Linked DNA regions of Homo sapiens. The protein of the gene in region 2 purifies or fractionates together with the protein of the main gene of each other region. This does not show direct contact. Each region holds a gene or a part of one and is shown on either strand. Other genes may lie near its edges.

Region 1 (3,653 bases), on a different chromosome or scaffold from region 2:
ATCACTGAAGCCTCGTCTTGCAGGGACAGAACTCATCTTCCTCCTCAAACTGGCACCTGCTCTATCTAGTCACCCACCCTAAATCTCCCAACCCACCCACGGGACCCGGCCTCTGCAGCCACTGCCCTAGGGCAGGCATTTCCTCTATTTCAGCAGTGCCACCTGCAACCCTCCTAGGAAGCCCACTGCTTACAAGACCAAGCTTCTCAGGCCAGCGCTCTCAGGCACCCACCTGAAGTCAGCCTCAGCTCCTGCCTGCTCCCTGCTGAGGTCTAAGGACACCACACCATGCAAGCCTGGTACCGCCCACAGCCCTCCCACCGCCCTCCCACCGCTGTGCTTCTGTGTCTGTGCTGCCCCTGACATCCCATTCTGTACAGCAAACACTGACTCACCCTTCAAGGCCTAGGAGAAATAAACCTTTTCCACAGCCTGCCCAAATGACCCTTAATGGCAGAATCACACTCCCTCCCCCTTTCATTCCCAGAGACATTCGGCTGCACCCAGGGTGGCGTCCTCACCAGCAGCTCTACCCACCACCTTCTATCTTGCCCAGGCTCAACAAAAAAGGCAACAAATAAAGTACTTACTGCAAACCTCTAGCTACATCCAATATTTGAAGACAGCACCCAATCCACATGCTCCAGGGTGGGGAGCAGGTGACAAAACCTTGCATTCCTACCCAGGCACCAGTGGAACAAAGGAGAACCCCCTGTTCCGCTGAGGAGCCAAGGATCGCCTCTCAGTAACCCTCCAGCAGACACGGGCCTGCCTGGGCACCCATCTAGGAGATGAGGACCTTGGCCCCCAGGATCTGTCCATGGGCCAGGCTCACCTGCCTGGCTTGGCTTGAAGTTCAACGGTCCCAACTCTGAGGAGTGCCTGGGTTCCCTTCCAGAAAGAAGAGCTCGCCCAGCTCTGCCCATCCCATCTAGACCCCACCTCCCCTTCCCCACCCGGCTCTCAGGAGCGGGGACAGGTGCCTTTCCCAGAACTGTGTGGTCCCAATCCGGACCCACCAGAAACACGGAGCAGGAGCCTCAGGGAAGGGATGAGGCCAGTACGGAAAGGCAGAGACCGGGGGGCCTGGAGAGAGTCGCTCCCTTTCCCTGGATCCCCACGAGCAAACGAGAAACAGGACCTCTAAGAGCTCAGAGTCTCTTCCCCCTTACCCCAAAGAGGGGTATTTGAAGCCCAGAAAGGCTCGGAGCCTGGCCTAAGGTCAACCAAGTCAGAATGGGCCCCAGACTCCCTCCTGCAGCCCGCACCCTACGCCGCGGCACTCCCTCAACTCTGGCCACTGAGGACCTTCAGTAACTGTGCATGTCATGGCTCTCCACCCCACCCTCTCCAAGCCTGCAGTGGACTCCCAGGAACCACGAGGATGTACAAAGACCTCCCTTCCAGGATCCAACCGCCCCAGGAAGGGCACCCCCAATCCCCTCGCACGTGAGCAGCCCCACACACCTGCCTGACTCTAGTGACAGAGCAGAAAGACAGCCGGGGCGGTGGTCGGTCAGCTTGCAAACAGCAAGAGGCAGGGCAGCCAGGTGGAGGAACTGCCCCCACAGGGTCCCTGAGAAAGGCTGTGCTGGCTGCCAAGCCCCTGGAATAAGGGGAGAAGCAGGAAGGGCCCCCACCCAATATAGAACAGCAGTTTTGAGCTATGAGATCCCAAAAGTGGGGAGTCAAATACCTAGACAGAGACAGCCTGTGTTCTTTCGCATGTCTGGAATGGGAGGACAGAAAGGAGGGACGACAAGGCAAGGTGGCCGCGGCTCCCACTCTCCTTCCCCAGCCCAGGGAGACGACCCTCAGGGGGTACCTATTCCCTATCCCGTTTCAAAGGAATGCAGCTGGCTCCCAAGGGGCCTCCTCTCCCCAGGACAGCATGTTTTACCCTAATCCTTCCTCCTAGGAACCCCGAAGGTCTCCCCACCCCTGGATGAAGGCTGAGCGATCTCCCCCGCAGGCAGCTGGCTGGCTCACCAGGTCCCGGTGCTCACCTGGTGCAGTTGGCAGCTGCCCTCCCCTCGGCTCTGGAGTCTCAGGATGGCCGTGGCAGCAAGGCAGCCAGCTCTCCAGCTCAGCCCCAGCATTGCCCGGGTTCCTTGTTCCAGCCTCTGCCGCTACCCTTGCCCTAATGCAGCCAGTCGGCCCGGGGCTGGAGCTCCGGCTGGCTTCGGGTTTCAGTGGGGCCAGGCCTGCCATGGCAGCCCCAGGAAGGGCACACTCCCCCTGCCTGGCATCCCGCTCAAGGTCGGCCAGAAGGACGGCTGTGGGCCAGGAGAACCCGGTGGCCCCAGGACCCCAGGGGGAGCTGCTATCAGCACTCAGGCCCACCTCCCTATGCCCCCTAGAGAGGGGGTCACTGCCGGCAAAGCCGCTAGGGGGATCGGAGAACCCAGAATTTGGGGTACCTGGACCCCTCAAGATTGAGGGCCTAGGAGACTGGCTGGCAGGGGCAGGGCCCAGCAAGGGGGTCCTCTCCTCCGCTCCCATCCCAGTGGGGGTGAACAGGACCGCTTCTGCCAGCTGCCGCCAACAGCTGGCACAGACCCGGGTCCAGGCCATAAGGTGGCTGCCTCTGCCCACCAGTCCCAGACACTGAGCACCCCACTGTCCCTGGGCCAAGGGCCTGGCTGGGACCTCTGGCTCCTGCTGCCCCCTGCAGGTGACCTGGCTGCCAGCCCCTTCCTGGGAGTCACTGGTTCTGGTGGAAGGGAGGGGGATGGGCCCCCAGCTTCCCAGAGGACAACTGCACCCGTGCCCCTGGCCTCCAGGCTCCATCAAGAAGCTGGCAGGCTCCATCTTCCCTTCCCAGCAGCCCCGGCTCTGCCAGGAGGGAACCAAGTCTCTCCCAGGGGAGAACAGAGCTGGCAGCAAGAGGCCAGTGGCCGCACGGCGGGGGAGGAGGTGCCCAGCTGGCCAGGGCGCCTTCCCAGGGCCTCTGACATGCTGCCAGTGCCCAGTAAGGGCTGCCCCAGCATCCACCCTACCCAGGGTGGGCGGGAGCCAGGCTCTCACTCCATCCCCTCCCCTCCAGGACCAGGGATCAGGCAGACCCTGGGCTGCTTCACAGCCCCCATGGAAGGTTCTGGGTCTCACACAATGACCAGAGGAGAAGGACCAGGCCTAGACAGAGCCCCTCTGCTCCTACCCTCTCCTGAAATACACCCTAACCCTCCGGAGAGAGGGGTGGGGCAGGGCAGCCTGGCAGTGACCCCAGAGAAGTGTTGACAACCACCTGCACTCTGATTACCACAGAGCCAGGACTCACGCTAGGCCCAGCCCACGGCAGCTCCCTAAACCGCCGTGCCAGCCCATCTCACCTGAGGAAACTGAGGCTCCAGAAGGCTAGGAAGCAGCTGCCCAAGGTCACAGAGGCAAGAGGAGCCAACCCAGAGCAAGAAAAAACCAGGTGTTACTATCACATTTGGGATTAAGTTTAAAAAAAAAAGGAAAGAAAAAACAGGAGTGTCAGACGCCCAAGCCCATGGCTTTTGAGTCACTCCCACTGAGCGCGGGCTACCCACCCGCTCCCACCGACCTGCTCCCGCCGACCCGCTCCCATGGACCCGCTCCCACTGACCCACTCCCACTCAGCGCAGCCCACCCACCCCCTCCCGAGGGGCCCGGCAGCACCCACAGGT
Region 2 (2,869 bases):
TGCTGCATGCGCTGCTGGAGAAGGGACACATCGTGTACGTGCACTGCAACGCTGGGGTGGGCCGCTCCACCGCGGCTGTCTGCGGCTGGCTCCAGTATGTGATGGGCTGGAATCTGAGGAAGGTGCAGTATTTCCTCATGGCCAAGAGGCCGGCTGTCTACATTGACGAAGAGGCCTTGGCCCGGGCACAAGAAGATTTTTTCCAGAAATTTGGGAAGGTTCGTTCTTCTGTGTGTAGCCTGTAGCTGGTCAGCCTGCTTCTGCCCCCTCCTGATTTCCCTAAGGAGCCTGGGATGATGTTGGTCAAATGACCTAGAAACAAGGATTCTACCTGAACTGAAAGGACTGTGTGACCTCCCCCAAGCCAACCACTTTCACCTGGGATGACTTTCGATTATGCTTTGTTTTGGGGCTGTATTTTTGAAATACTCTACAAGAAAGCTGTGGCTCAACACATGAGAAGAAGCACGAAGCAGTTAGGCTGTACATCAGACAGAAGGGTAATGCGTGCAGTTCCTGCTGCCTGCAGGCAGACGAGGCCTTTGCTTTACAGCACTGTATGTGTTGCACGATGGATCCGTGACAGCACTTTCCTGTTGCACTGAAACTCTTGGCCATGTAGAGGAAAAGATATGGAGTTATGTGGATTTCATCACTAGTATGTGTGCGTGAGCTGGTCAGTTGCCAAAGGAGGAAATAAGGTTAGAAGCCTGAACCGTTACAAAAGAAGAGCTCACTATGGTCAAAAAGTGATGGCTTTCAGGACTTGTTTTTTATCCTGCCTCACAGTTGTTAAAGTCTGTTCCAAGGCATCACCTTCCTTCTCTACCCAACAACCCTGTGTAACAACTAAAGTAGAATTATCTCTCATTTGTTGTTGTTTTTCCTCAAAATTACCAAACAAAGCAAAAAATACCCTTGTTTTTTATAGTTGAGATGTCAAGAAGTTAAATTGAGGCTTAATGAGCATAGGTAGCTTGTCCAAGGTCTCATGACCAGTCAAGGGCAAGCTGGAGTTAATAATCTATATTTATTTGACTCAGCACTGTTTTCATCACAACTTGTTTTCCCAGCATCATGTAGTGCATTTAGTTTTGTCTTTCTCAGGGTATAGTCAATATGCCTGCAGGAGTTTCTATAGCGAGACATAGAATAGTATTCTGATCAGTTGCCAAAGAATCTAGGAAATTAGTTGTATTTTGTGCAAGCTAATTTAAAAACATGATGGGCTGTTTTAAGACCAGAGTGGAAATTCATGAGAGGAACTATACTACCAAAAGAGCCCAAATGACCAAATCCATGGATAATTGCTTCACAGCCTTGGCCATCCTGGCTCAGCTCTCAATTTAGTATAATATGCAGTTCCTGTGCCTCCAGACTATGCAGCTCATCACCCTAGGTTCTACAGGAAATACAGAGATGAACAACTTTGCCTTCAAAAATGTGCTGCCTAGAAACAGACCTGCATTCAACCAACTGTAATGCAGGATTGGACCATGAATGATATGCTAGAATAGAAGAAAGAGAAGTGTTTTTTTAATTGAGAGCCTCTATGTGCAAGGTGATATATAATCATATCCAGTTTAATCTTCACAATATCCAATGAAGAAGGTCTCATTATCTCCATGATAAAGATGGGGAAACTAAGGTCAGAAGGGTTAACTCAACTGTCTATTGTCACATGATGAATAAATAGATGAAGTGAGATACAAAGCTGGGTTTGATTCAAAGCCCTTACTTTCCTAATTAAACTATGATGCGTATTTATTTTTCTGCACCTTCCTTTCTTCCACAAACACATATTGATAGATGCAAGAGACTCTTATTTAGAAGGCGTGGGGGACAAGAAGGATACAAGGTAAGTTTCAGTGGAGCTCAGAGGACGGGGAGATAGAACTGTGGCACTTAGGGGAGATGACATTTGCTTTGGGCAGAGGCAGCTAGCCAGGACACATTTCCACTATAATTTTACAAAGTTAAATTTATAAGCTAGCATTAAGTAAAGTGAAGTCCAGCTCCCTTGCTAAAAATAACTAGAGGTAATAATTGGTATTCAGGTAACTCATTTACAGTCATAATGTGTTGTGAAAATTTAATCTTAAAAATTAAATTTTTAAACTATGTGGGTCTGTGAATTTCTTTAATGTCTAAGAAATCCAGCTTCATAATTTCCATGATACAAAGATCTTTTTTCAGGTGGATTTTTACCTTTGTTCCTTTTGCTCTGATAGACAAAATCAGTTTAGGACTATTAAAGAATGTTTTGGAATAAACTGTCTTTTTCCTCAATGAATGGGATGTCTAATGTATTTCAAAATCACCCAAAACTTTTGGCAAATAAAAGCATTTAAAAAGACCTTTCTGTACAGGATTTTTAAAATGTTATCAGCTTAGTCTGAAATCTAGAAGGACAAATTTTGTTTCCTTATTTGTAAAGGGGGCAATCCACTGAGCTAAATTGTTTATTTTTCTTGTCACTCTTCCTCTTTCAATTAAACGATCAAAATTGGCAGTTACATGATAAAGGAAGTCAAAGGTGAAGGACCACAGAGAAGTGAGGATGAAAACTTAGAGTGTGTCTGAGAAAATCAAAGCAGATATTATGCCATTAGCTGCTTGTCACTGGTGTTTAACAAAACTTTTCAATCACGGATTTCTCAAAGGCAATCATGAGAAGATCTCATTCATGGTGAAGGAAAGTCTGAATGAGGTGGTTTTCTTTCAGACTTGAAACATTATCTTTCTATCATTCTGCTTGCCAGCATTAGGAAAAATGTAAAACACAACACAAAACACTCTCTTTTGACCATCATTAAGGTGTGGTAAAAATCACTTGGCTTGGTGTAAGAAATAATGATGAAAAATGTGG
Region 3 (3,653 bases), on a different chromosome or scaffold from region 2:
GAAACCTAGAATAGGACAGTTCATAAATATACATTCTTTACTCTTCTGATGTTGACTTTAATGACAGTGTCTTCATCAACATATCCTTGTAAAACTATAGTTTCTGACTGTTACCAGTCTTTAATCCCTATGGACTGTACTGCCCCCTTCTGCCAGAATTATCTTTGTAAAAGGCATATCTGATTGTGTTGTTCTCATATCCAGATACTGGACACATGCATGTGTCCGTACATTCACTTAATCCCATAGGTAGCATCAACTGCCTGTTGACTTTAAGGTTGAAATTCTCCAGCATGTTGTATGAAACCCATTATAATCTGCTGTGACCTACTTCTTCAGCTTCATCTTGTTTAATGACTTACTTCTCTGAACCTGTTTCCTGAATTAAATGAAATTCCAGAATTAAATCAAACTATTTATATTGGTTAATTATTACTGCTTATAAAAACACACTCAAACTCAGTGCTTAAAATGATAATCATTTAGTCTTTCTCTCACAGTTGTGGTTGGCTGTTCTCAGCTGGGGCAGTTGTGCTCCATGTGACTCTCATCCTTCTTGTACTAGCAGGCTAGGCTGAGCATGTTGTCATGGCAATAGCAAAGGTACACATGGGCAGGTAGAAACACAGAAGACCTCTCAAGGACTAGCCTTGAAATTGCCATGTTGTTTCATGCTGTTGGTTGAAACAAATTACATGGCCCAATCTGAAGTCAAGTCTCCTCCCCTTCAGTGCAGAGAACTTTGAAATCATGTGAGAAAGTGTATGAATGCAAGGATGAATGAAGAATTGGGGCCAATAATACAATATATGTATAAGGGCCTACCACAGTGCTTGGCATACAGTAAGTGTTTAATAACATTCATTCCCATCTCCTTTCCACCCCTACTTGCAAAAATATAAGGCCATTTACAAAAACTTCTTGCTGTTCTTGAACATATCATTCACTTCCCTGTTCCTGCATTTTTGTACTAGATATTTTCTCCAGTTAGAATTCTTCTTTCCCATTTTTCTGTCTACCTCGACTCACCACAGCTAGAGTGAGTTGCTGCTTCCTCTATGCCTCCATCACTCTTACATCCTGTACTGTGTTAAGAAATTATGTATTTAGGTGCCTGCCTCTCTCCCTTCTTCCATATCTTTCTTTTTCTTGATGCTAGCTACCTTTGGGACAACTCTATCTTCCTTGTCATTGTACTGTACCAATTCTGGCACATAGCGGGTTCATAATAAGCTATTTGCTAAAGTCTTTGGTAGACTGTTTGTTATATATTCATTATTGTTTTAAAGTAAAGCTACAAACTATAAATCTAAATCAATACAAAGATACTGTGTTAGGCCGTTCTTACGTTGCTATAAAGAAATACTTGAGACTGGGTCATTTATAAAGAAAAGAGGTTTAATGGGCTCACGGTTCTGAAGGTATACAGGAAGCATGGCATGGGCATCTGCTCAGCTTCTGGTGAGGTCTCAGGAAGCCTTCAATTATGGTGGAAGGTGAAGGGGGAGCAGGCATGTCACATGGCAGGAGCTGGAGCAAGAGGAGGTGGGGGAGTTGCCACATACTTTTGAACAACCAGATCTTGTAAGAACTCACTCAGTATTGTGAGGACAGCACCAAGGGAAGGGTGCTAAACTGTTCATGAGAAAACCGCCCCCATGATCCTATCACCTCCCACTAGGCCCCACCTCCAACATTTGGGATCACAATTCAGTATGAGATTTAGAGGGGACAACATCCAAACTATATCAACCACATATTATGGTTTTAAAATAAAGTATGGAAAATGACATTTTTATAGCTTAGTTCTTGGTTTAGTCATAGTTAGGAAATCATACAACCCAAGCTCTGGAAATGAAAATAAACCAACAATTGCTTTCAGGTAATATATTGTGATCAAACCTGCCAGAAAACACACTGGTTTACTCATAAGAAAATCTGTAAGAATCTGAAGGACATTTACGAAAAGCAACAGTTGGAGGCTGCCAAAGAAAAGAGACAAGAGGAAAACCGTATGTATATAAAAACCGAGTTCACTCTGCTTTTTAGTGGAGAGAGAGATGATAGGTGATCTTAACACACTGAAACTGCGTCTTCTCTGGAAGCCATAGGAGCTCAGGAGTGACCGATGTAAGAATCACATTTAAATTTTAATGTGTCCCGTTTTTAAGTTCTTAGGATATAGTCAGCCTGGACATCACTGGAAAACAGAGACATCAAATTCTGAGGGATGTAGCTTATTTCATATTTTACATTCTAGCTTAGGTTACTGCCCTGGAACAATGGGACCCTTAATGGGTATTAACTTATATTCTGCTCATGAAGGATTTTAAAGTCTTTGAATAAGGGAATTAATTAAATTTCCACTAATGGCTACCAGAAGATTTTAAGGGTGGAAGCCTTTAAATTCCTTAATTAAATTTCAGAACTACAGGTGAAATTACAGAGTATATTTATAAATCATTCATTAAATTGCAGATCTAATATACAGATCAAATTTCTACAAGTGTCATAGCAGTGAATTTTGTATTTTTTTTTCTCCATCCCTCTTGAGGTTTTGTGACCCATTTTCATCAGAAATAGTGAGTTGCTTCAGCAGTGATTATCAGATTGGAGAGGAGAACTGCCCCCACCCTCATGCCTCATTCCAGAGAATGTATCATATGTTCTGGGGGAGTGCATGTAATTTGAAAAAGATGCCTCGGTTATTCTGATACCAGGCATTTCTGCCTCCATCTCTCAAGGAACCATATCCGCTTTACTACTGGGTTGAGATATACTCTCAGTGGAATTAAATGGTTTGTACACAATTAAACCATTTATCCTTAAGAGAATAGTCAGGCTTTCTGACTGCCATGCCTTCTCTTGTTTTCTTGACCAAACTTTTTTATTCTATGTGCTAAGGACAGAAAGTAACAAATGTTCATTACTAACACACTATTGAGGGAGAATAAGATTGTCAGTAGAATGGGCACTCCCAGTTGTTAAGCATCATTCATGCACCAAACACTGCTCTAAATGTTACAGACAACTTTATTCTTCACCAATGTAGGATAGCCTTTATTACCTGCATATTATAGACAAGGGAAACAACTTCATGCAGGCAATTACCTCTCCAAGGACATCAAATAAATTCACAGAAAAGCTGTATTCAAATACAGGCTTTGTCAAATCCCAAGCAACAATCTTGATTTAGAGATGGCTTTGGAGCCAGCGGCCTGAGTTCAAATGCTGGTTCTGCTGTTTCACTAGCCAGGAAACTTGCAGCAAGCTACCAAACCTCTCTCTTCTCAGTTTTCTCATTTGTAAAATAACGTTAGCGATGACAGTAGAGATACTAATATACCTCATGTAGTTGATAGGAAGATTAAATAATACATGTAAAGCATTGAGAAGAGTGTCTGACACATGGTAGGAACAAAATAACTTCTTCTTTTTTTAATCAGACGGCAAACTTGATGTCAATTCTAACTGTGTTAATGAAGAGCAACCAGAGGCTGAAGTAGGTATCTCTCAAAAGGATTCCAATCCTGAAGATTCCGGGGAAGGAAAGAAAGAATCTCTTGAAAGCGAAGCTGAGTTGGAAGGCTTACAGGATGCTCCTGCAGGGCCACAGGTGTCTGAGGAGTAAAAGCCAGAGCAAGTGCCAGTGT

The links.
Region 1: the proteins of EPM2A (region 2) and CLUH purify together in Homo sapiens (affinity purification with mass spectrometry, with the first as the bait; one large-scale study listed by BioGRID). This does not show direct contact.
Region 3: the proteins of EPM2A (region 2) and ANKMY2 purify together in Homo sapiens (affinity purification with mass spectrometry, with the first as the bait; one large-scale study listed by BioGRID). This does not show direct contact.

Annotation. Positions count from the first base shown.
Region 1 is NC_000017.11:2,705,167-2,708,819, forward strand, and holds part of CLUH (clustered mitochondria protein homolog), read right to left. Parts: intron 3,351-3,653; exon of another isoform or gene 3,333-3,350; intron 2,610-3,332; exon of another isoform or gene 2,575-2,609; coding exon of another isoform or gene 2,007-2,574; intron 1,485-2,006; exon of another isoform or gene 1,468-1,484; intron 1-1,467. UniProt on the Homo sapiens protein: mRNA-binding protein involved in proper cytoplasmic distribution of mitochondria.
Region 2 is NC_000006.12:145,624,792-145,627,660, reverse strand, and holds the end of EPM2A (laforin), read left to right. Parts: coding exon 1-245; 3' UTR 246-1,936; coding exon of another isoform or gene 1,937-1,966; 3' UTR 1,967-2,356; downstream 2,357-2,869. UniProt on the Homo sapiens protein: Plays an important role in preventing glycogen hyperphosphorylation and the formation of insoluble aggregates, via its activity as glycogen phosphatase, and by promoting the ubiquitination of proteins involved in glycogen metabolism via its interaction with the E3 ubiquitin ligase NHLRC1/malin.
Region 3 is NC_000007.14:16,600,739-16,604,391, reverse strand, and holds part of ANKMY2 (ankyrin repeat and MYND domain-containing protein 2), read left to right. Parts: intron 1-1,882; coding exon 1,883-2,012; intron 2,013-3,446; coding exon 3,447-3,631; 3' UTR 3,632-3,653. UniProt on the Homo sapiens protein: May be involved in the trafficking of signaling proteins to the cilia.